Regions from separate parts of the Homo sapiens genome. Here all the other regions are linked to region 5. Evidence: fine-mapped expression QTL. A gene starts in region 5. Each other region holds a variant in brackets. All regions are shown on one strand. Distances are between the middles of the regions.

Region 1 (5,000 bases), 150 kb before region 5:
AGACTTTCAGTTTTTCCCCATTCAGTATGATACTAGCTATGGGTCTCTCGTATGTAACTTTTATTATGTTGAGGTATGTTCCTTTTATACCTAGTTTTTTGAGAGTTTTTATCATGAATTGTCATTGAATTTTATCAAATGCTTTTTCAACATCAATTGAAATGATCATATGGTCTTTGTCCTTTATTCTATTGATATAATGTGTCACATTAGTTGGTATGAGGATGTTGAACCATCCTTGCATACCTGGGATCAATCCCATTTGGTCATAATAAATGATCTTTTTAATGTGTTGTTGAATTTGGTTTGCAGTATTTTATTGAGGATTTTTGCATCAATATTCATTAGTTATATTGGCCTATACTTATATATATATTTTTAAGACAGGGTCTTACTCTGTCGCCCAAGCTGGAGTGCAGTAGCTTAGTAGAGCCAGGTTTTCACCGTGTTGGCCAGGCTGGTCTCGAACTCTTGACATCAGGTGATCCACCTGCCTTGGCCTCCCAAAGTGTTGGGATTACAGGCGTGAGCCACTATGCCTGGCCTATAGTTTTGTTTTGTTTTTTTTCTTTTGATGTGTCTTTGTTTCGTTTTGGTATCAGGGTAATATTTGCCACATAGAATGAGTTTGGAGGTATTCCTTCTTCCTCTGTTTTTCAGAATAGTTTGAGTAGGATTGGTATAAGTTCTTCTTTAAATGTTTTGTAGAATTTGCCAGTGAAGTCATCGGATCTGGGGCCTTTATTGGTAGACTTTTTATTATGGCTTCAATCTCATTACTTGCTATTGGTCTGTTCAGGTTTTGGATTTCTTCATGATTCAATCTTGGTAGATCATATGTGTCTAGGAATTTATCCATTTCTTCTAGATTTTTCAATTTTTTGGCATATAGTTGCTCATAATAACCAGTAATCCTTTGAATTTCTCCGGTATCAGTTGTAATGTCTCGTTTTTTTGTCTCTGATTTTATTTATTTGGGTCTTCTCTCTTTTTTTCTTAGTCTGGCTAAAGGTTTGTCAATTTATCTTTTCAAAAAACTGGTTTTTGTTTTGTTGCTCTTTTGTATTGTTTTCTTCATTTCAAATTCATTTATTTCTGCTCTGATCCTTATTTTTTATCTATTTGTTTATTTAGAGACAGAGTCTCACTCTGTCACCCAGGCTGGAGTGTAGTGGCGCGATCTCGGCTCATGCAACCTCCACCTCCTGGGTTCAAGTGATTCTCCTGCCTCAGCCTCCAGAGTAGCTGGGACTATAGGCGTGCACCACCACCCCCGGCTAATTTTTGTATTTTTAGTAGAGATGGAGTTTCACCATGTTGGCCAGGCTTGTCTCAAACTCCTAACCTCAAGTGATCCACCCACATTGGCCTCCCAAAGTGCTGGGGTTATAGATGTGAGCCACCACACCCAGCCTGCTCTTATCTTTATTATTTCTTCTACTAATTTTGGGTTTGGTTTGCTCTTCCTTTTCTAGTTCATTCAGTGGCATCGTTAGGTTGTTTATTTGAAGGTTTTCTCTTTTTTGATGTAGGTACTTGTGCCCATAAATTTCCCTCTTACTACGGCTTTTGCTGTATCCCATAGATTTCGGTATGTTGTGTTTCCATTATCATTTGTTTCAATAAATTTTTCAGTTTCCTTGTTGATTTCTTCACTGACCCACTGGTCATTCAGGAACATATTGTTGAATTTCCATGTGTTTGTATAGTTTGTAAAATTTCTTTTGTTAACTGATTTCTAGTTTTATTGTGTTCAGAGAAGATACTTGATATTATTTCAATTTTTTGAGTATTTTCTAGATGTACTTTTTTCATAAATATTTTCTTATATTTATGTTGCTTACATACTGCATACTTTAACAGTTACATTACTATTTTTGCTCACCTATTCCCCATTGAGAGAATTTAGCTGTTTTTAAACCATTCCAAAGAACATCTTGGTACATACTGGATTGTGTTTTATGATGTTTACAATGGCTTCCGCCTAGTTGGCTTACAGTATTGTTTGATGAAATAATCTCAAAAATGACTAAGATGGATAGTTGAAATAATCTTTTAGTTGAATACATATTTCCATTTTGCTTTCTGAAAAGAGTGAACAGTATTGTGGTATTACTAGTAATGTGTTTATGGACCTGTGTCCCCATATTGAATGTGGATTTTTCAGGTAATTTATTCTTTTGTTACTCAAAACCACTCAGATTTTTTTACCTTGATGTGAAAAAGTTATAGCTTTAATTAAATTTTTACTGTGATCCTTTCTAAATTATAAACCTATAATTTCTTATAATTTAAGTAAAAGCATTTCTTATTAAACTGTTTGGCTGTTTGGATTCTAAACACTCATTGTCTTGTTTTCTCCTTAATTTGGAGCAGTCTGGCTTCTGCTACTACCATTTCACGAAAGTATTTCTTACTAAGATAACTGGTCATCTCTTAAATGGCCAATCCCATAGCAGCACTCAAGACTTTTATCTTTCCTCACCTTTCTACTATATTCAGTGTTGTTATTCAGTTCCCCCTTCTTCAAATTTTTTATTTCAATAATACCCATCTCTTACATTCTCTCTCATTCTCTGATATTCTTCAGGGTGAGGTTCCTCTTTCTACCCCTTGATTGATCCGCCATGGGCCTTCTTTGTTAGTCTTTTACACTGTTTTTCACATTCTTTCTAGACAATATCATTTTTGCTCATGGCCTCAGTTAACTCCACATGGCTCCCAAATCTGTATGTTCAACTCAGGCTTCTCTCTGCTTTAGATTGAGGTATCTAGCTGTTTGACAAATTTCTAGGCATTTCATTTTCAACAAATGTAAAATCAGATTCCTATATTTCTTTCTTATCCTATTCCTTTTGTCTTCCCTTCTCAGCGAATACCAAAATCCTTATATTCTTTTGCCTTTTCTCAAGATAGTTCGTCTGTCCCTTTCTATTTCCTCCTCTGTCCCTTTCTATTTCAGGCATATTTAGTAATAATAATAATAATAGCCTTCTCTCATCTTCATGCCTGCTCTTGAACCTTTTTGATACTATCTTCCATTTTAAAACCA[A/G]AGTGATCTGTCTGACATACTACCTGTGTGGTCTGTCTGACCATGTTTTCCCTTCTTGCAATCCTTCAGTATCACCCAAGACCTTGGGAGGTAAGCTGGTCTCCTGAATGTTGCATCATGACCTAGAGAATTTATGAAAGTCAAGCCATGGGCCAGGCGCGGTGGCTCATGCCTGTAATCCCAGCACTTTGGGAGGCCGAGGCAGGTGGATCACCTGAGGTCAGGAGTTCGAGACCACCCTGATCAACATAGTGAAACCCCGTCTCTACTAAAAATACAAAAATTAGCCAGGCATGGTGGTGCGCATCTGTAATCCCAACTACTCAGGAGGCTGAGGCACGAGGATTGCTTGAGCCTGGGAGGCGGAGGTTGCAGTGAGCTGAGATTGCACCATTGCACTCCAGCCTGGGCAACAGAAGGAGACTCCGTCTCAAAAAAAAAAAAAAAAAAGAAAAAGAAAAAGAAAAAAGAAAGTCAAGCCGTGGAATCAGCGTTATTTAAGGTTATCTGAGTTGTTCCAGTTTCAGCCTGACTTGAGGCTTGCTGATTACAGGATAATCCCAGCAGACACTTTGTATTCCATACAGGGTTGTGCTGATCTCCTTTTCCCCCAGTTTCTCTCCGGCCTTTCTTCCTCTCATAACATACTCATCATCTATACCATTCCTGAATTCACTGCATCCTCTTATTTTTCTGCATACTTTGGACATACTGACCTCTGTCTTGAATCTCCTTTCCACCCTTAACTCATAGATGTTTTATTTATTGTTCTAGTCTCATTTCAAGCCCAGAGTATTTTAACTCCTCCAGAGAGTTATTGCTTCTTTGACCATCATTTTTATATGCATCTATGTACTACTTTGAAGTTTTTATCTGATTGTATTTTATTTGTTTACACTTTTTCCTCCCCACTAGACTTTAATTCCGTGAGGGCAGGGATCTTTTTTTTTTTTTTTTTTTTTTTTTTTTGGGAGGCAGGGTCTCACTGTGTTGCCCAGACTGGAGTGCAGTGGCACGAACACAGCTCACTTCAGCCTCGACCTCCTGGGCTCAAGCGATCCTCCTACCTCATCCCCACAAGTAGCTGGGACTTACAGGTGCTTACCACCATGCCTGGCTAATTTTTCTATTTTTGGTAGAGATGGAGTTTCACCATGCTGGCCAGGCTGGCCTCAAACTCCTGAGCTCATGCAGTCCATCCACCTTGGCCTCCCAAAGTGCTGGCATGGGCCACCACCCACTTCCTGAGTGCAGAGATCTTTTAATACTAGTGCTGAGCACAGTCCTTGAGACATAGTCTTCATAAACATGTATTGAAGTGAATTTCAGAGAAATTAATATGCATAAGTACATTGGTTCTAAAATATGTGCCCACCCAAACACTGTGTTAGAAGTCATCATTCGAAATTTCAAGCAATACCAAAAATAATCAGAAAAGTAAGCTGCCACTCATGACATTAGGCCACTACTATACTACTACTGCTATAACATGAGACTTGATTTTGCTAATTATACTTTCTAACTAATATGACAACCTAGGGAAAAAAGGCATACGTAACTCACCACTTGGAAAATTAATGTACATTTCATTTCTAGGCTGGTGAATCAAAGACTTCTGGAAGTACAGTCACAAGTTGAAGAATTACAAAAATCTTTACAGGATCAAGGCTCAAAAGCAGAAGATGTAAGTTTTAATATGTACCAACGATGGTCCATCAGTTTCACAATGTTGAGAAATAACTTTTATTTTTTATTTGATGTTTTTTGTCAAAATAATTTAGTATTATATTGGTTATAGAAAAGAAATAGTGTTTTCCTTTTTACTAACATTCCTTATAAAAAGGACCAGATAGTACTTTATTGTCTCTTCAGATTCGCTCTGCTGGGAATTAGAAGTTCATTTCTAGTTACCAACTGAAGAATTAATTGAGGCTTTATGTTTTAAATG
Region 2 (5,088 bases), 520 kb after region 5:
TTGTAGCATCTGAGAAGCCACATTTGAGAGCCCATTTTTGCCTACTGTGAAAATCCAAATGATCCCAGATAAAAACTAGAAAGAAGCTATCTGTGGAACAGTTTTATGAAGTGTGGATTCATCTCACACAGTTAACACATTCTTTTGATTCAGCAGGCTGGAAACAGTCTTTTGTGGAATCTGTGGATGGACATTTGAAATCCCTTTGAGACCTGTAGAGAAAACGGAATACTCTCAGAGAAAAAGTAGAAAGAAGCTATATGTGAAACTGCTTTGTTTTACGTTGATTCATTTCAAAGAGATAAACCTTTCTTTTTATTCAGAAGTTGGAAACAGTCTTTTTGTAGGGTCCGCAAGGAGACATTTTGGAGCCCATTGAGGCTTGTAGTGAAAAATCAAATATCCCCAGATAAAAGCTAGAAAGACGCTGTCTGTGAAACGACTTTGTGATGTGTGGATTCATCTCACAGAGTTAAACCTTTCTTTTGATTCAGCTGGTTGGAAACACTTCTTTTTTTAGAATCTGCAAAAGGATATTTGGGAGCCCACTGAAGCCCTTGTTGAAAAACTGAATATTGCCAAATGAAAATTAGAAAGAAACTATCTACAAAACTCGTTTGTGTTGTGTTGGTTCACCACACTGAGTTAACTCTTTCTCTTGATTAACATGTTGGAAACACTCTTTTTTTAGAATCTGCAAAGGGACATTGCAGAGCCCATTGAAGCCTGCAGTGAAAAACGAAATATCCCCAGATAAAAACTAGAAAGAGGAAATCTGTAAAATTGCTTTGTGATGTGTGGATTCATCTCACAGAGTTAAACTTTACTTTTGATCAGCATGTTGGAAACAGTCTTTCTGAAGAATCTGCAAAGAGACATTTGGGAGCCCATTGTGGCCTTTGGTGAAAAACAGAATATCCCCAGAAAAAAAGTAGAAAAAACTATCTGTGAAACTGCTTTGTGATATGTGGATTCATCTCACAGAGTTAAACTTTAATTCAGCAGTTTCTAAACTCTGCTTTTGTAGAATATTTGAAAAGGCATTTGGGAGCCCATTGAGGCATAAGGTGAAAAATATCCCAAGACAAAAAAAGAAAGAAATATCTGTAAAACTGCTTTGTGATGTGTGGATTCATCTCAGAGAGTTATATATTACTTTTGACTCAGCAGGCTGGAAACACTCTTTAAGCACTCTTTTTGTAGAATCTGTGAAGGGACATTTGGGAGAACATTGTAGCCTATGGTGAAAAACTGAATATCCTAGATAAAAACAAGAAAGAATTTCTCCATGAAAGTACTTTCTGATGTGTGCAGTCATCTCACAGAGGTAAGCTTAAATTTTCTTTCTGCAGACCGGTAACACGTCTTTGTAGGATCTGCGAAGGGACATTGTTTAGGCCATTGAGACCTGTGGTGGAAAACAGAATATCCCCAACTATAAACTAGAAAGAAGCTAATAGTGAAATTCCTTCATGATGTTTGGATTCATCTCACAAAGATAATCCTTTCTTTTCATTCATTCGCTTTTAAGCTCTCTTTTTGTAGGATATGTTAAGGGACATTTTAGAGCTTATTGAGGCCTATAGTAAAAAACAAAATATCCTCAAATAAAAACTAGAAAGAAGCTATGTGTGAAAGTGCTTGATGATGTGTGCATTCATCTCAGAGAGTTAAACCTTTTTTTTTATTCAGTGGGTTGGAAACACTCTTTTTGTAAAACCTGCAACAGTATATCTGGGAGAGCATTGAGGCCTAAGGTGAAAAACTGAATATACAAAGATAAAAACTAGAAGGAAGTTATCTGTGAAACTGATTTTTTGAAGTTTGGATTCATCTCATGAAATTAAACCTTTCATTTGGTTCAGCAGGTTGGAAACACTCTCTTTATAGAAACTACTAAGGGACATTTGAAAGCCTATTGAGGCCTATGGTGAAAAATAGAATATCTCCAGATAAAAACGAGAAAGAAGTTATCTGTGAATCTGCTTTGTGATGTGTGCATTCATCTCATAG[C/T]GATAAAAGTTTCTTTTGATTTGACTGGTTGGAAACACTCTTTTCATAGAATCTGGGAAGAAACATTTTTGGGCCCCTTAAGGACTATGGTGAAAAATCAAATATCCCCAGGTAAAACAAAAAAGCAGTTATCTTTGAAAGTCCTTTGTGATGTGTGGATTCATCTCACAGAGTTAAGTCTTTCTTTTGATTTAGCAGTTAGGAAACACTTTTTTTGTAGAATCTGCAAAGTGACATTTGGGAGCCCATTGAGGACTATGGTGAGAAACCAAATATCCACAGATTAAAACGAGTAAGAAGCTGTCTGCGAATGTGCATTGTGATGTCTGGATTCATCACACAGGGATACAACTTTCTTAAATGCAGTAGGTTTTATGCACTCTTTTTTTAGAGTCTGCGTAGGGACAGTTGGGAACCCTTTGAAGACTGTGGTGAAAAAACATATATTCCCAGATAAAAACTAGAAGCAAGCTATCTACAAAACTGCTTTGTGATTTGTAGATTCATCTTACAGTGTTAAACCTTTCTTTTGAATCTGTACATTGGAAAAACTTTCTTTGTAGAAGCTGCAAAGAGACATTTAAGGGGCAATTGAGGCCTATGGTGAAAAACTAATTATCCCCAGAAAAAAAAAAGAAAAAAGTTATCTGTGAAACTGCTTTGTAATGTATGGATTCAAGTCACAAGGTTAAACAGATCTTTTGATTCAGCTGGTTACAAACACTCTTTTTGTAGAATCTGTGAAGAGACATTTGGTAGTGCATTGAGGCCTATGGTAAAAAAAAAGATTATCCCCCTAAAGAAAACAGAAAAAAGCTATTTGTGAAACTGCTTATTGAGGTGTAGATTCATCTCACAGAGTTAAACCTTTCTTCTGATTCAGAAGATTGGAAACACTCTTTTTGTGGAATTTGTGAGGGGACATTTGAGAGCCCGTGGAGGCCTAGGGTAAAAAATTGAATATCCCAAGATAAAAACGAGAAAGAATCTATCTGTGAAAGTGCTTTGTAATGTGTGGATTCATCTCCCAGGGTTAAACATTTCTTTTGATTCAGCATGTTGGAGACACTCTTTTGTAGAAACTGCAAAGGGAAATTTGAGAGCCCATTGAGTCCTATGGTGAAAAACTGAATATCCCAACATAAAAACTAGAAAGAAGATAGCTAAGATAGTGCTTTGTAATGTGTGGATTTATCCCACTGAGATAAACCTTTCTTTTGATTCAGTGTGTTTTAAGCACTCTTTTTGTAGCATGTGCAAAGGGACATTTGAAAGCTGATTGGGTCATATAATGAAAAACAGAATATGCCCAAATAAAAACTAGAAAGAAACTGTCTGTGACACTGCTTTGTGATGGGTGGATTCATTTCACAGAGTTAAAACTTTCGTCTTATTCAGCTGTTTGGAAACGCTCCTTTTGTAGAATGTGTTAAAGGACATTTGAGAGCCCATGGAGGCCTAAGGTGAAAAACTGAGTATACCCAAATGAAAACCCTCTGTGAATCTTCTTTGTGATGTGTGTATTCATCTCAGAGGGTTACACCTTTCTTTTGATTCAGCAGGTTGGAAACACTCTTTTTGTATAATCTGCAAAGGGACATTTGGGAGCTGATTGAGGCCTAGTATAAAAAACTGTATATGCCTAGATAAAAACTAGAAAGAAGCTATCAGTGAACCTGCTTAATGATGTGTGGATTCATCTAACAGCGCTAAAAGTTTATTTTGGTTAAGTAGGTTGGAAAAACTTTTTGTAGAATCTGTGAAGAGAAATTTAAAAGCCCTTTGAGGGCTATGGTGAAAAACTGAATATCCTGAGATAAAAACAAGAAAGAAGCTATCTGTGAAACTGCTTTTGGATGTGTGGATTCATCCAAAAGAGTTAAACACTTCTTCGTGTTCAGCACGTTGGAAACACACTTCTTGGAGAATCTACAAATGGACATTTCTAAGACCATTGTAGCCTAAGGTGAAAAACCGAGTATCTTCAGATAAAAACTAGATATAAGGTATCTGTGAAACTACTTTGTCATGTGTGGATTCATTTCACAGAGTTAAAGCTTTCTTTTGATTCAGCAGGAAGAAAACACACTTTTTGTAGAATCTGCAAAGGGACATTTGGAAGCCCATTGAGGCCTACGATGAGAAACACATTATCCAGAGGTAAAACTGGAAAGAAGTTATCTGTGAAACTGCTTTTGATGTGTGGATACATCTCACAGAGTTCAATGTTTCTTTTGAATCAGGAAGTTGGAAACACTCTTTTTCCAGAATCTTCAAAGAAACACTTGGGAGCCCATAGAGGCATAGGGTGAAAAATCGAATATCCCAGTATGCAAACTAGAAAGAAGCTATCTGCGAGACTGCTTTTGATGTGCAGATACATATCACAGAGTTAAACCTTTACTTTTGATTCAGCAGGTTGGAAACATTCTTTTTGTAGAATCTGCAAAAAGACATTTCAGAACCTATTGAAGGCTATGGTGAAAAACAGAATATCCACAGGTAAAAATTGGAAAGAAACTATCTGTAAAAGTGCTTTGTGATGTGTGGATTCATCTCAGAGTTAAACGTTTGTTTTGATTCAGCAGGTTGGAAGCTCTTCTTTTGTAGAATCTGCGAAGGGAAATTTGGCAACCCAGAGAGTCTTGTGGTGAACAATAGAATATACCCAAATAAAAATTAGAAAGAAGCTATCTGTGAATCTGCTTTGTGATGTGTGGATTCATCTCACAGGGTTAAACATTTCTTTTGATTCACTAGTTTGGAAATCCTCTTTTTGTAGAATCTGTGAAGGGACATTTGGGAGCACATTGAGGCCTAAGGTACAAAACCAAGTATCCCAGTATACAAAGTAGAAAAAAGCTATCTGTTAAACTGATTTCTGATTTGTGGATTCATTTCATAGAGTTAAATTTTTTTTTTATTTAACATGTTGGAAGCTGTCTTTTTATGGAATCTGCAATAAGACATTTGGAAGCTATTTGAGGCCTACCATAAAAACCAGATATCCCCAGATAAAAACTAGAAACAAGCTATCATTTAAACTGTTTTGTGATGTGTCATTTCATCTCACAG
Region 3 (5,088 bases), 120 kb after region 5:
TGGAGTGTGATGTTCCCCTTCCTGTGTCCATGTGTTCTCATTGTTCAGTTCCCACCTATGAGTGAGAATATGCGGTGTTTGGTTTTTTGTTCTTGCGATAGTTTACTGAGAATGATGATTTCCAATTTCATCCATGTCCCTACAAAGGACATGAACTCATCATTTTTTATGGCTGCATAGTATTCCATGGTGTATATGTGCCACATTTTCTTAATCCAGTCTATCATTGTTGGACATTTGGGTTGGTTCCAAGTCTTTGCTATTGTGAATAATGCCACAATAAACATACGTGTGCATGTGTCTTTATAGCAGCATGATTTATAGTCCTTTGGGTATATACCCAGTAATGGGATGGCTGGGTCAAATGGTATTTCTAGTTCTAGATCCCTGAGGAATCGCCACACTGACTTCCACAATGGTTAAACTAGTTTACAGTCCCACCAACAGTGTAAAAGTGTTCCTATTTCTCCACATCCTCTCCAGCACCTGTTGTTTCCTGACTTTTTAATGATTGCCATTCTAACTGGTGTGAGATGGTATCTCATTGTGGTTTTGATTTGCATTTCTCTGATGGCCAGTGATGGTGAGCATTTTTTCATGTGTTTTTTGGCTGCATAAATGTCTTCTTTTGAGAAGTGTCTGTTCATGTCCTTTGCCCAGTTTTTCATGGGGTTTTTTTTCTCTTGTAAATTTGTTGGAGTTCATTGTAGATTCTGGATATTAGCCCTTTGTCAGAGGAGTAGGTTGCGAAAATTTTCTCCCATTTTGTAGGTTGCCTGTTCACTCTGATGGTAGTTTCTTTTGCTGTGCAGAAGCTCTTTAGTTTAATTAGATCCCATTTGTCAATTTTGGCTTTTGTTGCCATTGCTTTTGGTGTTTTAGACATGAAGTGCTTGCCCATGCCTATGTCCTGAATGGTAGTGCCTAGGTTTTCTTCTAGGGTTTTTATGGTTTTAGGTCTAACGTTTAAGTCTTTAATCCATCTTGAATTGATTTTTGTATAATGTGTAAGGAAGGGATCCAGTTTCAGCTTTCTACATATGGCTAGCCAGTTTTCCCAGCACCATTTATTAAATAGGGAATCCTTTCCCCTTTGCTTGTTTTTCTCAGGTTTGTCAAAGATCAGATAGTTGTAGATATGTGGCATTATTTCTGAGGGCTCTGTTCTGTTCCATTGTTCTATATCTCTGTTTTGGTACCAGTACCATGCTGTTTTGGTTACTGTAGCCTTGTAGTATAGTTTGAAGTCAGGTAGTGTGATGCCTCCAGCTTTGTTCTTTTGGCTTAGGATTGACTTGGTGATGCGGGCTCTTTTTTGGTTCCATATGAACTTTAAAGTAGTTTTTTCCAATTCTGTGAAGAAAGTCATTGGTAGCTTGATGGGGATGGCATTGAATCTGTAAATTCATGATATTGATTCTTCCTACCCATGAGCATGGAATGTTCTTCCATTTGTTTGTATCCTCTTTTATTTCCTTGAGCAGTGGTTTGTAGTTCTCCCTGAAGAGGTCCTTCACATCCCTTGTAAATTGGATTCCTAGGTATTTTATTCTCTTTGAAGCAATTGTGAATGGGACTTCACTCATGATTTGGCTCTCTGTCTGTCTGTTGTTGGTGTATAAGAATGCTTGTGATTTTTGTACATTGATTTTGTATCCTGAGACTTTGCTGAAGTTGCTTATCAGCTTAAGGAGATTTTGGGCTGAGACAGTGGGGTTTTCTAGATATACAATCATGTCGTCTGCAAACAGGGACAATTTGATTTCCTCTTTTCCTAATTGAATACCCTTTATTTCTTTTTCCTGCCTAATTGCCCTGGCCAGAACTTCCAACACTATGTTGAATAGGAGTGATGAGAGAGGGCATCCCTGTCTTGTGCCAGTTTTCAAAGGGAATGCTTAAAGCTTTTGCCCATTCAGTATGATATTGGCTGTGGGTTTGTCATAGATAGCTCTTATTATTTTGAGATACGTCCCATCAATACCTAATTTATTGAGAGTTTTTAGCATGAAGGATTGTTGAATTTTGTCAAAGGCCTTTTCTGCATCTATTGAGATAATCATGTGGTTTTTGTCTTTGGTTCTCTTTATATGGTGGATTACATTTATTCATTTGCGTATATTGAACCAGCCTTGCATCCCAGGGATGAAGCCTACTTGATCATGGTGGATAAGCTTTTTGATGTGCTGCTGGATTCGGTTTGCCAGTATTTTACTGAGGATTTTTGCATCAATGTTCATCAAGGATATTGGTCTAAAATTCTCTTTTTTGGTTGTGTCTCTGCCCAGCTTTGGTATCAGGATGATGCTGGCCTCATATAATGAGTTAGGGAGGATTCCTTCTTTATCTATTGATTGGAATAGTTTCAGAAGGAATGGTACCAGTTCCTCCTTGTACCTCTGGTAGAATTTGGCTGTGAATCCATCTGGTCTTGGACTCTTTTTGGTTGGTAAGCTATTAATTATTGCCACAATTTCAGATCCTGTTATTGGTCTATTCAGAGATTCAACTTCTTCCTGGTTTAGTCTTGGGAGAGTGTATGTGTCGAGGAATTTATCCATTTCTTCTAGATTTTCTAGTTTATTTGCGTAGAGGTGTTTGTAGTATTCTCTGATGGTAGTTTGTATTTCTGTGGGATCGGTGGTGATATCCCCTTTATCATTTTTTATTGCATCTATTTGATTCTTCTCTTTTTTCTT[T/C]ATTAGTCTTGCTAGCGGTCTATCAGTTTTGTTGATCCTTTTCAAAAACCAGCTCCTGGATTCATTAATTTTTTGAAGGGTTTTTTGTATCTCTATTTCCTTCAGTTCTGCTCTGATTTTAGTTATTTCTTGCCTTCTGCTAGCTTTTGAATGTGTTTGCTCTTGCTTTTCTAGTTCTTTTAATTGTGATGTTAGGGTGTCAATTTTGGATCTTTCCTGCTTTCTCTTGTGGGCATTTAGTGCTATAAATTTCCTTCTACACACTGCTTTGAGTGCGTCCCAGAGATTCTGGTATGTTGTGTCTTTGTTCTCGTTGGTTTCAAAGAACATCTTTATTTCTGCCTTCATTTCGTTATGTACCCAGTAGTCATTCAGGAGCAGGTTGTTCAGTTTCCATGTAGTTGAGCGGTTTAGAGTGAGATTCTTAATCCTGAGTTCTAGTTTGATTGCACTGTGGTCTGAGAGATAGTTTGTTATAATCTCTGTTCTTTTACATTTGCTGAGGAGAGTTTTACTTCCAAGTATGTGGTCAGTTTTGGAATAGGTGTGGTGTGGTGCTGAAAAAAATGTATATTCTGTTGATTTGGGGTGGAGAGTTCTGTAGATGTCTATTAGGTCCGCTTGTTGCAGAGCTGAGTTCAATTCCTGGGTATCCTTGTTAACTTTCTGTCTCATTGATCTGTCTAATGTTGACAGTGGGGTGTTAAAGTCTCCCATTATTAATGTGTGGGAGTCTAAGTCTCTTTGTAGGTCACTCAGGACTTGCTTTATGGATCTGGGTGCTCCTGTATTGGGTGCATATATATTCAGGATAGTTAGCTCTTCTTGTTGAATTGATCCCTTTACCATTATGTGATGGCCTTCTTTGTCTCTTTTGATCTTTGTTGGTTTAAAATCTGTTTTATCAGAGACTAGGATTGCAACCCCTGCCTTTTTTTATTTTCCATTTGCTTGGTAGATCTTCCTCCATCCTTTTATTTTGAGCCTATGTGTCTCTGCACGTGAGATGGGTTTCCTGAATACAGCACACTGATGGGTCTTGACTCTTTATCCAATTTTCCAGTCTGTGTCTTTTAATTGGACCATTTAGTCCATTTACATTTAAAGTTAATATTGTTATGTGTGAATTTGATCCTGTCATTATGATGTTAGCTGGTTATTTTGCTCGTTAGTTCATGCAGTTTCTTCCTAGTCCCAATGGTCTTTACATTTTTGCATGATTTTGCAGTGGCTGGTATCGGTTGTTCCTTTCCATGTTTAGCACTTCCTTCAGGAGCTCTTTTAGGGCAGGCCTGGTGGTGACAAAATCTCTCAGCATTTGCTTGTCTGTAAAGTATTTTATTTCTCCTTCACTTATGAAGCTTAGTTTGGCTGGATATGAAATTCTGGGTTGAAAATTCTTTTCTTCAAGAATGTTGAATATTGGCCGCCACTCTCTTCTGGCTTGTAGAGTTTCTGCCGAGAGATCCGCTGTTAGTCTGATGGGCTTCCCTTTGTGGGTAACCCGACCTTTCTCTCTGGCTGCCCTTAACATTTTTTCCTCATTTCAACTTTGGTGAATCTGAAAATTATGTGTCTTGGCATTGCTCTTCTCGAGGAGTATCTTTGTGGCGTTCTCTGTATTTCCTGAATGTGAATGTTGGCCTTCCTTGCTAGATTGGGGAAGTTCTCCTGGATAATATCCTGCAGTGTTTTCCAACTTGGTTCCATTCTCCCTTTCACTTTTAGGTACACCAATCAGACGTAGATTTGGTCTTTTCACATAGTCCCATATTTCTTGGAGGCTTTGTTCATTTCTTTTTATTCTTTTTTCTCTAAACTTCCCTTCTCGCTTCATTTCTTTCATTTCATCTTCCATCACTGATACCCTTTCTTCCAGTTGATCGCATCGACTCCTGAGGCTTCTTCATTCTTCATGTAGTTCTCGAGCCTTGGCTTTCAGCTCCATCAGCTCCTTTAAGCACTTCTCTGTATTGGTTATTCTAGTTATACATTCGTCTAAATTTTTGCAAAGTTTTCAACTTCTTTGCCTTTGGTTTGAATTTCCTCCTGTAGCTCAGAGTAGTTTGATCGTCTGAAGCCTTCTTCTCTGAACTCGTCAAAGTCATTCTCTGTCCAGCTTTATTCCATTGCTGGTGAGGAGCTGCATTCCTTTGGAGGAGGAGAGATGCTCTGCTTTTCAGAGTTTCCAGTTCTTCTGCTCTGTTTTTTCCCCATCTTTGTGGTTTTATCTACTTTTGGTCTTTGATGATGGTGATGTATAGATGGGTTTTTGGTGTGGATGTCCTTTCTGTTTGTTAGTTTTCCTTCTAACAGACAGGACCCTCAGCTGCAAGTCTGTTGGAGTACCCGGCCGTGTGAGGTGTCAGTCTGCCCCTGCTGGGGGGTG
Region 4 (5,088 bases), 170 kb after region 5:
TTTCTTCTAGATTTTCTAGTTTATTTGCGTAGAGGTGTTTGTAGTATTCTCTGATGGTAGTTTGTATTTCTGTGGGACCGGTGGTGATATCCCCTTTATCATTTTTTATTGCATCTATTTGATTCTTCTCTCTTTTTTTCTTTATTAGTCTTGCTAGCAGTCTATCAATTTTGTTGATCCTTTCAAAAAAACCAGCTCCTGGGTTCATTAATTTTTTGAAGGGTTTTTTGTGTCTCTATTTCCTTCAGTTCTGCTCTGATTTTAGTTATTTCTTGCCTTCTGCTAGTTTTTGAATGTGTTTGCTCTTGCTTTTCTAGTTCTTTTAATTGTGATGTTAGGGTGTCAATTTTCAATCTTTCCTGCTTTCTCTTGTGGGCATTTAGTGCTATAAATTTCCCTCTACACACTGCTTTGAATGCATCCCGGAGATTCTGGTATGTTGTGTCTTTGTTCTCGTTGGTTTCAAAGAACATCTTTATTTCTGCCTTCATTTAGTTATGTACCCAGTAGTCATTCAGGAGCAGGTTGTTCAGTTTCCATGTAGTTGAGCGGTTTAGAGTGAGATTCTTAATCCTGAGTTCTAGTTTGATTGCACTGTGGTCTGAGAGATAGTTTGTTATAATTTCTGTTCTTTTACATTTGCTGAGGAGAGCTTTACTTCCAAGTAGGTGGTCAATTTTGGAATAGGTGTGGTGTGGTGCTGAAGAAAATGTATATTCTGTTGATTTAGGGTGGAGAGTTCTGTAGATGTCTATTAGGTCTGCTTGGTGCAGAGCTGAGTTCAATTCCTGGGTATCCTTGTTAACTTTCTGTCTCATTGATCTGTCTAATGTTGACAGTGGGGTGTTAAAGTCTCCCATTATTAATGTGTGGGAGTCTAAGTTTCTTTGTAGGTCACTCAGAACTTGCTTTATGAATCTGGGTGCTCCTGTATTGGGTGCATATATATTTAGGATAGTTAGCTCTTCCTGTTGAATTGATCCCTTTACCATTATGTAATGGCCTTCTTTGTCTCTTTTGATCTTTGTTGGTTTAAAGTCTGTTTTATCAGAGACTAGGATCACAACCCCTGCCTTTTTTTATTTTCCATTTGCTTGGTAGATCTTCCTCCATCCTTTTATTTTGAGCCTATGTGTGTCTCTGCATGTGAGATGGTTTTCCCGAATACAGCACACACTCGACTCTTTATCCAATTTGCCAGTCTGTGTCTTTTAATTGGACCATTTAGTCCATTTACATTTAAAGTTAATATTGTTATGTGTGAATTTGATCCTGTCATTATGATGTTAGCTGGTTATTTTGCTCGTTAGTTCATGCAATTTCTTCCTAGTCTCGATGGTCTTTACATTTTGGCATGATTTTTCAGCGGCTGGTACCCGTTGTTCCTTTCCATGTTTAGCACTTCCTTCAGGAGCTCTTTTAGGGCAGGCCTGGTGGTGACAAAATCTCTCAGCATTTGCTTGTCTGTAAAGTATTTTATTTCTCCTTTGCTTATGAAGCTTAGTTTGGCTGGATATGAAATTCTGGGTTGAAAATTCTTTTCTTGAAGAATGTTGAATATTGGCCCCCACTCTCTTCTGGCTTGTAGAGTTTCTGCTGAGAGATCCGCTGTTAGTCTGATGGGCTTCCCTTTGAGGGTAATCCGACCTTTCTCTCTGGCTGCCCTTAACATTTTTTCCTTCATTTCAACTTTGGTGAATCTCACAATTATGTGTCTTGGAGTTGCTCTTCTCGAGGAGTATCTTTGTGGCATTTTCTGTATTTCCTGAATCTGAAAGTTGGCCTGCCTTGCTAGATGGGGAAAGTTCTCCTGGGTAATATCCTGCAGAGTGTTTTCCAACTTGGTTCCATTCTCCCCGTCAGTTTCAGGTACACCAATCAGACGTAGATTTGGTCTTTTCACATAGTCCCATATTTCTTGGAGGCTTTGCTCATTTCTTTTTATTCTTTTTTCTCTAAACTTCCCTTCTCGCTTCATTTCATTCATTTCATTTTCCATCATTGATACCCTTTCTTCCAGTTGATCACATCGGCCCCTGAGGCTTCTGCATTCTTCACGTAGTTCTCGAGCCTTGGTTTTCAGCTCCATCACCTCCTTTAAGCACTTCTCTGTATTGGTTATTCTAATTATACATTCTTCTAAATTTTTTTCGAAGTTTTCAACTTCTTTGCCTTTGGTTTGAATGTCCTCCTGCAGCTCAGAGTAATTTGATCGTCTGAAGCCTTCTTCTCTCAGCTTGTCAAAGTCATTCTCCATCCAGCTTTGTTCCGTTGCTGGTGAGGAACTGCGTTCCTTTGGAGGAGGAGAGATGCTCTGCTTTTTAGAGTTTCCAGTTTTTCTGTTCTGTTTTTTTCCCCATCTTTGTGGTTTTATCTACTTTTGGTCTTTGATGATGGTGACGTACAGATGGGTTTTTGGTGTGGATGTCCTTTCTGTTTGTTAGTTTTCCTTCTAACAGACAGGACCCTCAGCTGCAGGTCTGTTGGAATACCCTGCCGTGTGAGATGTCAGTGTGCCCCTGCTGGGGGGTGCCTCCTAGTTAGGCTGCTCGGGGTCAGGGGTCAGGGACCCACTTGAGGAGGCAGTCTGCCCGTTCTCAGATCTCCAGCTACGTGCTGGGAGAACCACTGCTCTCTTCAAAGCTGTCAGACAGGGACATTTAAGTCTGCAGAGGTTACTGCTGTCTTTTTGTTTGTCTGTGCCCTGCCCCCAGAGGTGGAG[C/T]CTATAGAGGCAGGCAGGCCTCCTTGAGCTGTGGTGGGCTCCACCGAGTTCAAGCTTCCTGGCTGCTTTGTTTAGCTAAGCAAGCCTGGGCAATGGCGGGCGCCCGTTGCCCAGCCTTGCTGCCGCCTTGCAGTTTGATCTCACACTGCTGTGCTAGCAATCAGCGAGACTCTGTGGGCGTAGGACCCTCTGAGCCAGGTGCGGGATATAATCTCGTGGTGCGCCGTTTTTTAAGCAGGTCAGAAAAGCGCAGTATTCGGGTGGGAGTGACCCGATTTTCCAGGTGCGTCCGTCACCCCTTTCTTTGACTCAGAAAAGGAACTCCCTGACCCCTTGTGCTTCCCAAGTGAGGCAATGCCTCACCCCGCTTTGGCTCACACACGGTGCACGCACCCACTGACCTGCGCCCACTGTCTGGCACTTCCAAGTGAGATGAACCCAGTACCTCAGATGGAAATGCAGAAATCACCCATCTTCTGCGTTGCTCACGCTGGGTGCTGTAGACCGGAGTTCAATAAAATGTTATTTAGAAAACCATAAGGGAGACTGGATTTGGCCTGTGGCCTATAGTTTTCTGACCCCTCATAGAGGATTGATGGAAGGTAACCATGTAAAGAAACCAGGAGACAAAGGAAGATTTGCTGTAGTCAGCTACAGTTTCCTTGTCACATGTCCTTGGACTAGTATCAATTTATTATAAGGTTTTCACCCATCCATCGTGAAATAAATAAAGTTAGGAATCTCAGTTATTCATTTTAAAATGTTGGCCTTTTTTTGGTGTTATGCCTTTTTCATTTGTTTTGTTTTAATTTTTTTTCATGTAAGAAATAACATTAACAGCTGGGTTTTTTAAAAAAATAAAAGCCACTTTGTAAATGTTTATGTTCCCAGTGGCAGTGGGAATATAAAATGGAAGCAGAAGAGAGGTATAGTCAATATGATTTAGTGACTGTTGAATGAGAAAATTTAGGGGACAGAGAGAAATCCCAGATGATTCACAGGTTTCCAGGTTGTACAGTATTATTTAACCTGAACATGAGGAAGGAGTAGGAAATTTTCTGGTGAATACAGAAGAGCAAAGAAGAGCAGCTCAAGAGGAATGACTAATTATTTTTCTGTGCATGTTTAATGGGATATTCATATAGGATTTTTGAATAGATCATTGAATATCAGCATTTATAGCTGGCATCCTACTAGTTTGACTCTCAGTAATAAGACTTGTCAAAGATCCAAGAATCTGAAAGTTGATGATAAATTTCCATGTGTATCACCATCAATGACTGAAAGTCAGCATCCACAGAATTGGGAGAGATGAACTTAATAGATAAAGATGAATTGGAGTTGTGTTTCTCTTAGAGAATGATACTCTCCATGACTTGTGTGAGTCACAGCTGCCAGAAAACAAAGAGGCCAAGGAACATATTAAAGAAGCACAGCAAATTCAGTCCTAGAGTGCCTCTGCTTGGCTTCGTGTTATAGTTCTGACTTCTAAAAAATCACTTTTTGGCAAAATATACTTTGTGTTTCTTCCCCTCTTGCAAACTGCAACCAAACAGAATCCTTTTTAGCAAGGCATTTTTGTGTTCTTTGACCAAAGCAACATATAAATAACAAAAAGAAGTAAGAGAAAGAACTTTTTTTTGTGTGTATAGGCTAGTATTTAACATAAACTTGAGAGTGAGTGCCAGTATTATATTTAGGATTTAGGGACTAGATAGGAAAACTGGATAGAAATCTAAAGATTGCTGACTCAAACACAATGTGGTTTCTTTGCTTTATTTTCACAGCTCTGAATTCACAACTATTAGTTATATTTATATGCACTATAACTTTAGAAAGCACCTTCCCAAACCAAATTTTATGTGATTTCTTATAATTTAGATGACTTTATTATAGAATTGAATTTCCAACTGTTCATAAGAATTATTGAGCATTTGCTGCATAGTATCATCTCAGCTGTGTCCACATGAGCTACCTATCACCTTGTGTTAATGAATAATGGTTCACCAGGAATATTGGTTTTGGCATTTAAAGTGATCTGTATTTAATGCAGATAGGACCAGGGACCACTCTTGAACATTAATGTCCAAGCATCTTAAAATTACACAGAATGCTTTCATAATCAGAATTCTGCCTCACTCTCCATCTTTAGCCCTTTTCCCCATGTGCCCTTTCTCTGGCATTACTGAACTGCCTGCAATGCCCTACTCACTCATCCTTCTCTTGTAGGCAAATACATTCACTCTTTCACACCTTACTCCCTCTCTTGCTGCTTCCTGGCATACTGCCAACCTTTCCTGCCCTCTACCCCTTGTAATCTGGCTAGCCTCAATATTTAAGTCTCTGCTTGGCCATGATTTCTAGAA
Region 5 (5,088 bases):
CAGTTTTTCCTTAGCATTTGGCTTACGAGAAGGAGTCCATGCAACCCCTCAACCCCTGAGCATAAGTGAGGTCTAGGGAACTCCAAGACTACTGACAGCAGGGGTGATAGGGCATTCATGGGTAGAGGAGATAATTCCCACCCTCTAGACCCCTGCTTCATGGATGCAAGCCATTTTGGCACCCATGGTAGCACTTTCGAAGGTTGCATGGGGATGCAAGGATGGAAGAGGACGCTATTCCTTCTATCCCTCACGTACCCCAGGTATTTGCTAGGAAAAGAACCAGGGATGCCTGCTCCCCTCTTTCTATGTGGGTAGCCATTTATCTTCAGTCTGCACCACTTTCAAATGCATCTGGAACCCTTCGGATTCCTTTGAAAAAATGCCTTCTTTTTTCCTTTCTCCTCCTCGGTTCACAATGACAATCCTAATTGTGTCTCCATACTATGGGACACTCCCCTCAGATGCATTTTCCAAACTGGAAAGAGTTAATTTCCTAAACCTTAAACTGGCTGGCTTAGGATTGGTTTCAGGGGAAGGGAACCCAGAAGCCCAACATGCCAGCAAAAGGGTAAAGTTGTTTACCATTCGGACTTTTGGCCCCCTTCTCCGTGTACAAATTGGTAAAAAGCCTCAGGATTTTTGAGCTGTCCTTATCCCTCCCCTTGTTTCTTTTCTTTTCTTTTTTTTTTTGAGACAGGGTCTCACTCTGTCGCCCAGGCTGGAGTGCAGTGATGTGGTCTTGGCTCACTGCAACCTCCGTTCAAACGATTCTCCTGCCTCAACCTCCTAAGTAGCTGGGAGTACAGGCAGGCACCACCACTGCTGGCTAATTTTTGTATTTTTAGTAGAGACAGGGTTTCACCATGTTGGCCAGGCTGGTCTTGAACTCCTGACCTGCCAGGCTGGAGTGCAGTGGCATAATCTTGGCTCACTGCAAACTCTGCCTCCCGGATTCAAGTGATTCTCCTGCCTCAGCCTCCCAAGTAGCTGGGACTACAGGTACTTGCCATGACGCCCGGCTAATTTTTTGTATTTTTAGTAGTGACAGGGTTTCACCATGTTGGCCAGGATGGTCTCGATTTCTTGACCTCGTGATCCACCTGCCTTGGCCTCCCAAAGTGCTGGGATTACAGGCGTGAGCCACTGTGCCCGGCCATATGTGTTTAATAACCCAGTTTGTCTCTTCTTGCCTTCAGGACATCAAACGGTCATGCTACTGGAAGCTCGGACCATGGCCCCTTCTGCTGGGCACCCTTAGATAGGCCTCTGAGGGAGATCTGATTGCCATTTTCCCGAAACAGTGCCCCCTATCAGCAGGAAGCAGTTAAGATCTGTCTTTGTCCCTATTCTTATCCTAGTGGCAGTTAGATAGACTTCTTTAGAGCGAGGAATGAGCCAGATGGGAAGGGTTCCCTGGTAAAACTCCAACTGGCCTGTGCACTGCTCTGGGGTGGAGCCACAGAAGTTCGCTCCTCAGTTTGCAGCTGGGAGGAGCCTGGCCCTCCTCTTCCTCGGGAGAACCTGGGATTTAATCTGTGAGGTGGGAAGCCTACAACTAGGAGAACTCTGGCTCTGCTGAGTCCCTGTTCCCCTTTTTCTTCCTTTACACCCAATAAAACCCTGCCTTACCCTTCAAATTGTCTGCGAGCCTAATCTTTCCTGGCGTGTGACAAGGACCTCCACCGTCTTTAGCTGAACTAAGGAAAAGTCCCGCAACATTTTCATGTGTGCCTTTGTATTTTTATTACATATATGGATGTCCCTAAACAACATACATTATTGTTTTGCTTTATATATTAAAAAGGCATTCTGCAATTTGCATTTTCCCCAGCCTTGTGTTTTGAGATTTATCCATGTGGATGCGGGAAGCTGTAGAGCACTTCCCCTGCTGTGGGGCAGTTTGTTTTCTCGCTGGCGGACATTCAGCTTGTTGACAAGGTTTTGCAATTACAAGCACCTCTGCTATAGGTATTACTGTACCTGTCCCTTATACCTGCGATAGTGTCTCCCGGCATACAGCCAAGAATGGGTGTGCACACTCCTCGACCTGCTCCCTTCCACTTCGTCAGCCTGGCCGGGGGCTCTTTCAAGAGGTGGGGCCGCTTGGTGGCTTCTAAGTCGTGCCTCTCCCTCTGGGTAATAAACGCCTTGGGGGCAGGGACTTTGCAGTCTTGCTTATTGAGGCGTTTTCCAAAACAGGGACCGAGGGCTCTAACACCCGTGCGGAGGGTGGCCGGCGGGGGCGGGAGTTTGGCAGAATGCGGCTGGAGAAGGTGGGGCGAGGGAAGAAGGCTCCTGGCCTGCAGGGGCCTCTCTTCCGGCTGTTTTTCCTCCCGAAGACAAACACTCCCAACGCAGGGGCGCAGAGCCTCGGCTTCTTTCCTGGCCAGCTCCCTCAAGGCAGGGCCTAGCATGGCCCGGCCCAGCCCCTAGGTTCCCCCGCCCGCGGCTCCCGGGCGCCTCCGCCTCCCGCGGTGACTCAGGCGGCGGTGACGGCAGCGGAGGGGGCGATGACGGGCGCGCGGGCGTCCGCGGCGGAGCAGCGCAGGGCGGGGCGCAGCGGGCAGGCAAGGGCGGCCGAGCGGGCGGCGGGCATGAGCGGGGCGGGCAGGGCGCTGGCCGCGCTGCTGCTGGCCGCGTCCGTGCTGAGCGCCGCGCTGCTGGCCCCCGGCGGCTCTTCGGGGCGCGATGCCCAGGCCGCGCCGCCACGAGGTGAGTGCACACCTCCTACCGCCGCCCGGCCGGCTACGAGCGCAGCGTCTCCTCTCCGCGGCGCCGCCCCTATCTCCGTGCGCGGCGCCGAGCGCTAGGCCGGGCCGGAACCGCCCCCGTGGCCTGGGCTGTTGCTGCGACTTCGCGGTCCCGCGCCCCAGACCGGAGGCCGGACTTCGGGGTGCTGCGGCCGGGCCCCGCGGAGGCGGGGGAGGGGGCGGTTCGGACCGCGGCGGAGTGGAACCTGGGCGCCCAGGCGGCGCCCACCCCAGCGGAGCCTGCGTCCTGGCGCCTTCCGTCTAAACAGAGGCCGCGGATCGGGACGCCGGGACCCCACAAACTGGCAGCCAGGAGGCGGGCCAGCCGAGGATCGGGGGGGCTCGGACTCCCCCTGCACCCAGTCCACTGTTCGGAGGGACTTAGAGCAGGGTCCCTTCCCTGAGGGCCTCGCCCCCGAGGACGTGGCGCCGGAGCCGTGCGACCCATTGGCTTCAGCGGGTGGGAAGCCTGGGGCCGGGACGCGCGTTCGCCCCGCGCTGGGGTTGAACCTGCGTGGATGTGCGGCGGGTGAGGAACCGCGGAGAAGGCGGTGGGGGCGCGGCCTGCAGCCCGGTCCCGGGCGAGCCCTCCGCGCGTCTCCCCTCGGCGCGTTTTCCCTCCAGGGTGACTGGGAAGCCGCCGCCGCCGCCGCCGCCGCCTGGGAGGGGCCGGGCTGGGCGCTTTTGCCCCGGGCCCCGGACCCCGGGCGTTTGTCCGGTGCGCTGGCTTAAGAGGCGCTCAGCTCATACCGTGATTGCACAACTGGCTTGCTCTCCGAACTCGGTGGGGAAAACGGTGACAAATACAGATTCCAGGTCTCCATCTAGACCCCTGCACCGGGGAGCCCCAGGCCCTAGGTCCTTCGCACACGCCCCTCCCAGAGGGGTCGGGCAAGCATCGCAAACCCCTTTGGGTAGGAGGGACGGTGGGAGTCACCTGTCTTTCCCCTCTCGCGCCCTTTTCTTGGTCAGAATACGAAGTTTTAGTGTCTGTGTATGGAGTTCAAACGACCCCTCCTCTCCAAGCAGAAGCTGGAGGAGAAAGGCGTTGTGAATTTTGGAAAAGCGGCTCAGAGGATTACATTTTGTGCGATCCTTGATCCACCCAACCTTCATCTCCTGCGCTCCCCTCCTTTAAAATTGCAAGGACCCCGGGGAGGTTATGTAATCTGCCTGATCACAATTTGTCAGGGACTGATCCCGCCGAACACTCTTTGCATTTTAGCGCCAGTATTAGCTTATCAAAGGGCACTTACTTTTAGAGAGAGGTGGTTTGTAAATAGTAATCACACGTAGTGAGGGGAAGCCGCGTTGGGACCGCAAGGCTTTCCCTGTCACCTGGAGCCCATGTTTGGGCCGCACAGCTTTCCTACTAAAAACGTCATCATCTTCCTTCTTTTTGAAAATTCAGCATTTGCTTGAAGAAAAAAAAAAGTAGACTATGTCTTTAAAAATATGCCCAGCAAAGATAACTCACGAGCAGAGAGCTAGACCAGAAATTAAATATTTGGAAAGGAAATAAAGGTGTAATACACAAGCAGCACATTTATCCCCGCACCATTGGAAGGTGACTTTATTTGGTAATTTGCCCACCAAGACGAGGTAGACCAGAGGAGAGAGAAGGAAATAATTGTTCTTTTGTCTGTAACGCTCTGGGGGTATTGCCCTGGAATTTCTTAGGTCAGCTGCTGTGTGGGAAGGTGACAGCTTTTTCTTGAAGCTGAACATCAAGCTCAGTTTCGAGGTCATATTTGATGACTTATTTGATGGCTTAGTAATTGGGTCCTTTGGTCGTGTCTGTAAGTGATACAGACTGTTATTATTATTTTTAAAAACCACATTCAAATAATGCAAAGTGAAAAAAAAAGGTGTCAAAATCCGCTGGCGTTACTCTGACAGTCTCTAGCTGTGGTTCCCTAGCTGTGGTCTTCACCCTCGGCTGCACACTCGAATCCCTTTGGGAGGTTCGTTGTTTTTTGTGGGAAATTAAAAAAATCATGCTGATTGGGCAGAGATTCTGATTTAATTGGTCTGGAATGGGGCCAGGGCATTGGTAACTTTTGTAGTTTTTTTAGAGCTTCCTCAGGTAATTTTGACATTCAATGAAGACTGAGCCCCTCTGCACATTCCCAAATAGCATAGTTAGTAACAATGACAATGAAGAGCTTTCAGCCTAAAATTCGTGTGGATAATCTAAGTATAAAACAAGTACCTTATTCCGCCCACCACCAAAGGCTTAGAGAAACATGAGTACACACAGTACTTATTCCATCTACGAAGGGATGATGATGTGTGGAGAAATTACGAAGGAAAAGCTCATGGCTTCATGGTCTCT
Region 6 (5,074 bases), 440 kb before region 5:
GGGCATGGACCCCAGCTGTGGTCAAGGCAGCCTGGAGGATACAAGACTGTGCCATATTTTGGGGACCACAAAAGGCTTCCAGATTCAGTTGCTCCCCTAGGGAGAAGGCTGCAGGGCCTGCAATGACTGAGATTGGATTTCCAGCCAGTTCCATGGAAGGCTAGCTTCATTTTATTCAATTTCTTGAAAATAAAGGTGAAACTTCCTGCACACTTGGATTGGCGGTGGCTGATTTACTCCTGAGACCATTACAAATTCTCAGCAGGCTGGGAGCACAGTTGAGATGGATAGGAGGAAATCAGTGCATGGCTCCTTCCTTCCTCCTTGCATTCCCACAACGTTCTCAAGCATTTGCAGGTGTCAGGCCCTGGACACAGAGAGATACAGAGGAGACTCCAGAGGGCTGGAGACCAAGCCCTCCTGCAGGAGCTGGTGGTCTAGGAAGGGAGGCCAGGCAGGGCAGCGACATTGTGATGTGAGGGGCTCTGAGACAGGGGCCCTGAGGAACAGACAGGGCTCAAGAGCTCAGGGTCCCGGGGTCCTGGGCTAGACCTCTTTTCCACACATGATGCCTCCTTACCGAGCACCCTCTGGGTGTCTCAAACTCACTAATGGCACACAGAGGAGGGTTAAATTAAGAAATTTAAAAATTGGACTAAATCACTGCCGCTAAGACAGAATTCCTCCATGCCCTGGAGTGGGTTCCTCCAGCACTCAGTTCCCAACCAGATAGGTCTTGGCTCCCACCTGGCCCTCTTGTCTGTCTAGCCCTGACTTTGTACTTGCCATTCATTTGATGTATCATGCATTTATCAAGGGCCCTCTGGGTGTGCACAGCACTGAACTAGATGAAATCTGATCAACTGTGAAGAAGAAAGGATGGTGTTATTAGTGTCCAAGTCTCATACATAAAACACCACTAACCTCCCACCCTACTGTCCCCTGCAGTGACCAGAAGGTGGGCCTGGTGGGGTCAAGGGAGCCACAGAGAATGTGCTGATATTAACACATGTGGGAACCAGCAGAATAGGGAGGCTCCAGGACATACTCATGACTTCAGGTCCAACTGGAAAAGAGAATAGAGAGGCTGGGCGCAGTGGTTCATGCCTGTAATCCCACCACTTTGGGAGGCCAAGGCGGGCGGATCTCCTGAGGTCAGGAGTTCAAGACCAACCTGGCCAACATGGTGAAACCCTGTCTCTACAAAAATACAAAAATTAGCTGGGCATGATGGCAGGTGCCTATAATCCCAGCTACTCAGGAGGCTGAGGTGGGAGAATGGCTTGAACCTGGGAGACGGAGGTTGCAGTGAGCCGAGATTGCACCATTGCACTCCAGCCTGGGTGACAGAGTGAGACTCCATATCAAAAAAAAAAAAAAAAGAATAAAAAGAAAAAGAAAAGAGAATAGAGAAATAACGGGGATGAGAAACTTTTCACTATGGATGTGGTAAAGTGTGGTTCTTCTGTACGCAGATCTCCAACTGTAAGAAAAATAGCACAGAACATTCAGAAGTTGTCTAGTTTCATCCTTTCTCCAGTGCCCCGCATCTCTTGCAAGGGAGTAAATTAATAAGTCAGGAGTTAGGACCCAGAGATATGTTTTAGACTTACACGATCTGACAGCTGACTGCAAATCAATGAAGTGCACTTTGAGAAGCGGCACACTCGGCGAGAGGGGTTGAGATTGTTTTATTCCACTCCAGGTGTTGCTGTCCTCTTGGGTTCCACTTCGGATTTTGAACCCCTGTATTTTCTTTTCAAAACCCCCTTTTCCAGTGGAAATGCTCTGTTGTTAAAAAGGAAGAAACTGTCTTTCTGAAACTGACATCACGATGCTCCCAGATTTTATGCTGGTTCTCATCGTCCTTGGCATCCCTTCCTCAGGTAAGCACAAGTCACAGTAAATTAAAACTACAGTTGCAGAATTATTTAAGCAGAGGAGGCAAAACTATGGTGTTGATAATGTTAGAATTACAATATGTAATGCACAAGATACATTTAGGAT[A/T]ACCTTTAAAATGTGGCCCAAATGAGTAATTCTGTGAGATGTGGGGTTTTTTTTGCTGAAGAAATCATATCTATGATTTTCATAATGTTTATGTTTTTGTCATTTGCTGCGTTTCTCCTTCTGAATCACTATGAGCTTGGTAAGAAAATACAAAAGCAGGAAAAACATTATTGAATGCACTGAGCATTACTCAGAGAATTGTTCAAATATTTGGCACAGAAATTTACTATATCAACATTTTTCTATCATATTTACCAATAATTTCTATATCTGCATGTAGATATTTAATTTTGTCCAATATGCCCTGTAGGCCTATATATTTTAATAAATCTGTGTATGTAGGTAGATTTAGCATGTTTATATATCACAATTAAACACCAATGTATCAAAACTCTATGTGTTTTATGTGACTATTATCAACTGAAAATAGAGGAATTTTTGATAAGGATAAAGGACAAATAAAAGGAAAAAGTGAAAGATAGAGACAGAGATGCAGAGAAAGAACAAAAAGAGAAAAAGAAAGGGGAATAAAGTACTGAAAGGCTTTGGGGATTGGTCATTTGCACCTGCCAATTTCCTGGGTTTGGGAATCTTTTCACTTTTTGTGTAACTTGAGAACAGAAAGTTTTCCCCCATTGAATCAGAAACCATCTGAAACCGCAGCCAGATGGTGAGAAAAGTGTCAGTTCACTAGCAATTTGTATTAATTTCTCAGTAGTATTTTTGCCACGTTTGATTATTGTAATTTTCAAATGGAGAACTGGAGACACTAAGGGAGATTTGCCCAAATCCAGAAATAAATTCTACATTTCAAGTTCCCAAGGCTGCGAGGCACCTGAACATTATCCTGTTGTCAAAAACGCCTTTTCTCAGACCAAGGACTCAAAGTCAAACAGGAATTTCTAAATGCAGAAAGCCTCAAACTCACTTTCAAATATCATGAAATTTGGACTTTTCAAAGTCTTGAATGCAGTTTGCCAATCACAAAAATGATAAGAAAATTCTGTGTGTTTGAGCTTACCATTAATGTACGTGTGTCTGATGTTTTTCTGTCTTTATTATTCTATTTATTATAAGACAATTGATTCTTACCACTCTTTTCCCAAGGAATGATTTCTCTCAATGGTTAGCGAGGGTGTTTAGCATAAACTCTCTTGGTTCAGCTAAGTCTCGTCCTCTGTGTACAATCATGATTACATAAGAAAACTGGAATTGCTTGGCCTCTGGCATTGGTCTCCATTGTGTGGGCTGGAAGAGTTTGGGAAGATTGTGTAATCTTTCACAGATCTATAATAAATCTAATAACCTGTGATAAATCTTACATCTGTATTTCTAGATCCATCAGCATCTGCTCATATTTTTAAATCTGTCCCATATTTCCTTACATTTTTTAACTTTACTATTCATTGTAAACAAAATAGTTTCTTTTTGTTATGCAAAACTACTTTTTTCAAATTACAAGAGGCAACCCCTTCATTTTTATATTTCTGGCTTTGGTAAAAAGGAGCCTTGGGTGTGGCCATGGGTTGTCTCTCATATTGCTATTTCATATTTTGTGTGTGCTATCTGCTCTCAAAAAGCAGGAGGTGTATCTTATTTATCTTCCCATCTCTCTTACAACATGATGATATGATAAGACACAATGTGTTTATTCATTCAATAAATACTTATTGAGCATCTACTGTATCCTAGGAATGGTTCCAGTGTCTAGGAATGCAAGAGGAAATAAAAACAAAGCCATTTTCTAATAAGCTCTCAGCTGGGCATCATGGCTCACACCTGTAATCCCAACACTTTGGGAGGCCAAGGTAGGCAGATCACCTGAGGTCAGGAGTTTGAGGCCAGCCTGACCAACATGGTGAAACTCCGTTTCTACTAAAAATACAAAAAATTAGCCAGGCGTGGTGGCACACGCCTGTAATCCCAGCTGCTCGGGAGACTGAGGCAGAAGAATCGAATCGCTTGAACCTGGGAGGCAGAGGTTGCAGAAAGCCGAGATCACACCACTGCACTCCAGCTTGGGCAACAAGAGCGAAACTCGGTCTCAAAAAAAGAAGAAAAAGGTCTCATGCTATCAAGAATCCATTGAATATGCATTCTTTGATTTCACCATGAGGGCTAGCTCCATGGGTGACGGAAGAGGCTGCCATATTTGTGGTATGCTTTTTTTTTTTTTTTTTTTGACGAGGCGGCAATAGTGGAAGGAAGAAACAAAATATACCAAAAGGCATCAAAGCAAAAAAATCCACATTTCACAATCGTCTTTGCTGAGATTTGGAATTCTTCAATAATTTCTTTTCTTTTTTTTTTTTGAGATGGAGTCTCGCTCTGTCGCCCAGGCTGGAGTACAGTGGCGCGATCTCTGCTCACTGCAAGCTCCGCCTCCCGGGTTCACGCCATTCTCCTACCTCAGCCTCCAGAGGAGCTGGGACTACAGGTGCCCACCACCACGCCCAGCTAATATTTTTTGTATTTTTAGTAGAGATGCGGTTTCACCGTGTTAGCCAGGATGGTCTCAATCTCCTGACCTCGTGATCCACCCACCTCGGCCTCCCAAAGTGCTGGGATTACAGGTGTGAGCCACTGCGCCCGGCCTTGTTTTTTGTTTTTTGTGGTTTTTTTGAGACGGAATCTCGCTCTGTCACCCAGGCTGGAGTGCAGTGGCAATCTTGGCTCACTGCAACCTTTGCCTCCTGGATTGAAGGGATTCTCCTGCCTCAGCCTCCCGAGTAGCTGAGATTACGGGTGCCCACCATCACACCTAATTCTTTTTTATTTTTAGTAGAGATGAGGTTTCACCATGTTGGCCAGGCTGGTCTCAAACTCCTGACCTTAGGAGATCCACCCGCTCCGGCCTCCCAAAGTGCTGGGATTACAGGCATGAGCCACCATGCCCGGCCCAATTATTTCTTTTCTGTCCTGGCTGAGGATAAAAAAATGGCATTATCAGTAAAACCATAAATAATCCTGAAGATTTTTATGAAATCCTGTTCATAAAATTATGGACAGATGTTGATGGATCTAGAAATACAGATCTGAGATTTATAACAGGTTATTGGATTTAGTA

Alleles and levels. Positions count from the first base shown, and alleles are read on the strand shown. Sizes are in standard deviations (SD) of each study's normalised expression. Not every link is listed here.
For the expression in cerebral cortex of the gene that starts at base 2,565 in region 5, allele C in region 3 goes with a higher level than allele T (moderate effect, 0.41 SD a copy in GTEx).

What was found. PIP is the estimated chance that this variant, and not a neighbour inherited with it, causes the effect.
Region 1: its variant is the best candidate, but not a certain one, in a credible set for the expression of HGSNAT in whole blood (INTERVAL, PIP 0.65).
Region 2: its variant is the best candidate, but not a certain one, in a credible set for the expression of HGSNAT in whole blood (TOPMed, PIP 0.60).
Region 3: its variant is the best candidate, but not a certain one, in a credible set for the expression of HGSNAT in cerebral cortex (GTEx, PIP 0.62).
Region 4: its variant is the best candidate, but not a certain one, in a credible set for the expression of HGSNAT in whole blood (INTERVAL, PIP 0.78).
Region 6: its variant is the best candidate, but not a certain one, in a credible set for the expression of HGSNAT in whole blood (INTERVAL, PIP 0.51).

The regions. Positions count from the first base shown.
Region 1 is chr8:42,992,902-42,997,901 of GRCh38, forward strand. It overlaps HOOK3 (hook microtubule tethering protein 3), which reads left to right. Exons shown (of 22, transcript NM_032410.4): 16 at 4,649-4,736. Among named protein-coding and RNA genes, the nearest start is that of FNTA, 61 kb to the right of the region's middle. The variant A/G (reference allele first, on the strand shown) is at 3,053.
Region 2 is chr8:43,661,802-43,666,889 of GRCh38, forward strand. No RefSeq gene overlaps it. Among named protein-coding and RNA genes, the nearest start is that of POTEA, 370 kb to the left of the region's middle. The variant C/T (reference allele first, on the strand shown) is at 2,014.
Region 3 is chr8:43,260,778-43,265,865 of GRCh38, forward strand. It overlaps the pseudogene AFG3L2P1. Among named protein-coding and RNA genes, the nearest start is that of POTEA, 29 kb to the right of the region's middle. The variant T/C (reference allele first, on the strand shown) is at 2,700.
Region 4 is chr8:43,310,045-43,315,132 of GRCh38, forward strand. All of the region lies in intron 6 of POTEA (POTE ankyrin domain family member A (gene/pseudogene)), which reads left to right. Among named protein-coding and RNA genes, the nearest start is that of POTEA, 20 kb to the left of the region's middle. The variant C/T (reference allele first, on the strand shown) is at 2,723.
Region 5 is chr8:43,137,900-43,142,987 of GRCh38, forward strand. HGSNAT (heparan-alpha-glucosaminide N-acetyltransferase) reads left to right here and starts at 2,565. Exons shown (of 18, transcript NM_152419.3): 1 at 2,565-2,715. The coding sequence starts at 2,598. RefSeq lists an enhancer at 1,227-1,521 and silencers at 2,365-3,154, 3,165-3,544.
Region 6 is chr8:42,695,713-42,700,786 of GRCh38, forward strand. It overlaps CHRNB3 (cholinergic receptor nicotinic beta 3 subunit), which reads left to right and starts at 1,654. Exons shown (of 6, transcript NM_000749.5): 1 at 1,654-1,886. The coding sequence starts at 1,835. LOC124900250 (a long non-coding RNA gene) reads right to left here and starts at 3,179. Exons shown (of 3, transcript XR_001745887.2): 1 at 3,100-3,179; 2 at 1,614-1,788; 3 at 786-863. The variant A/T (reference allele first, on the strand shown) is at 2,008.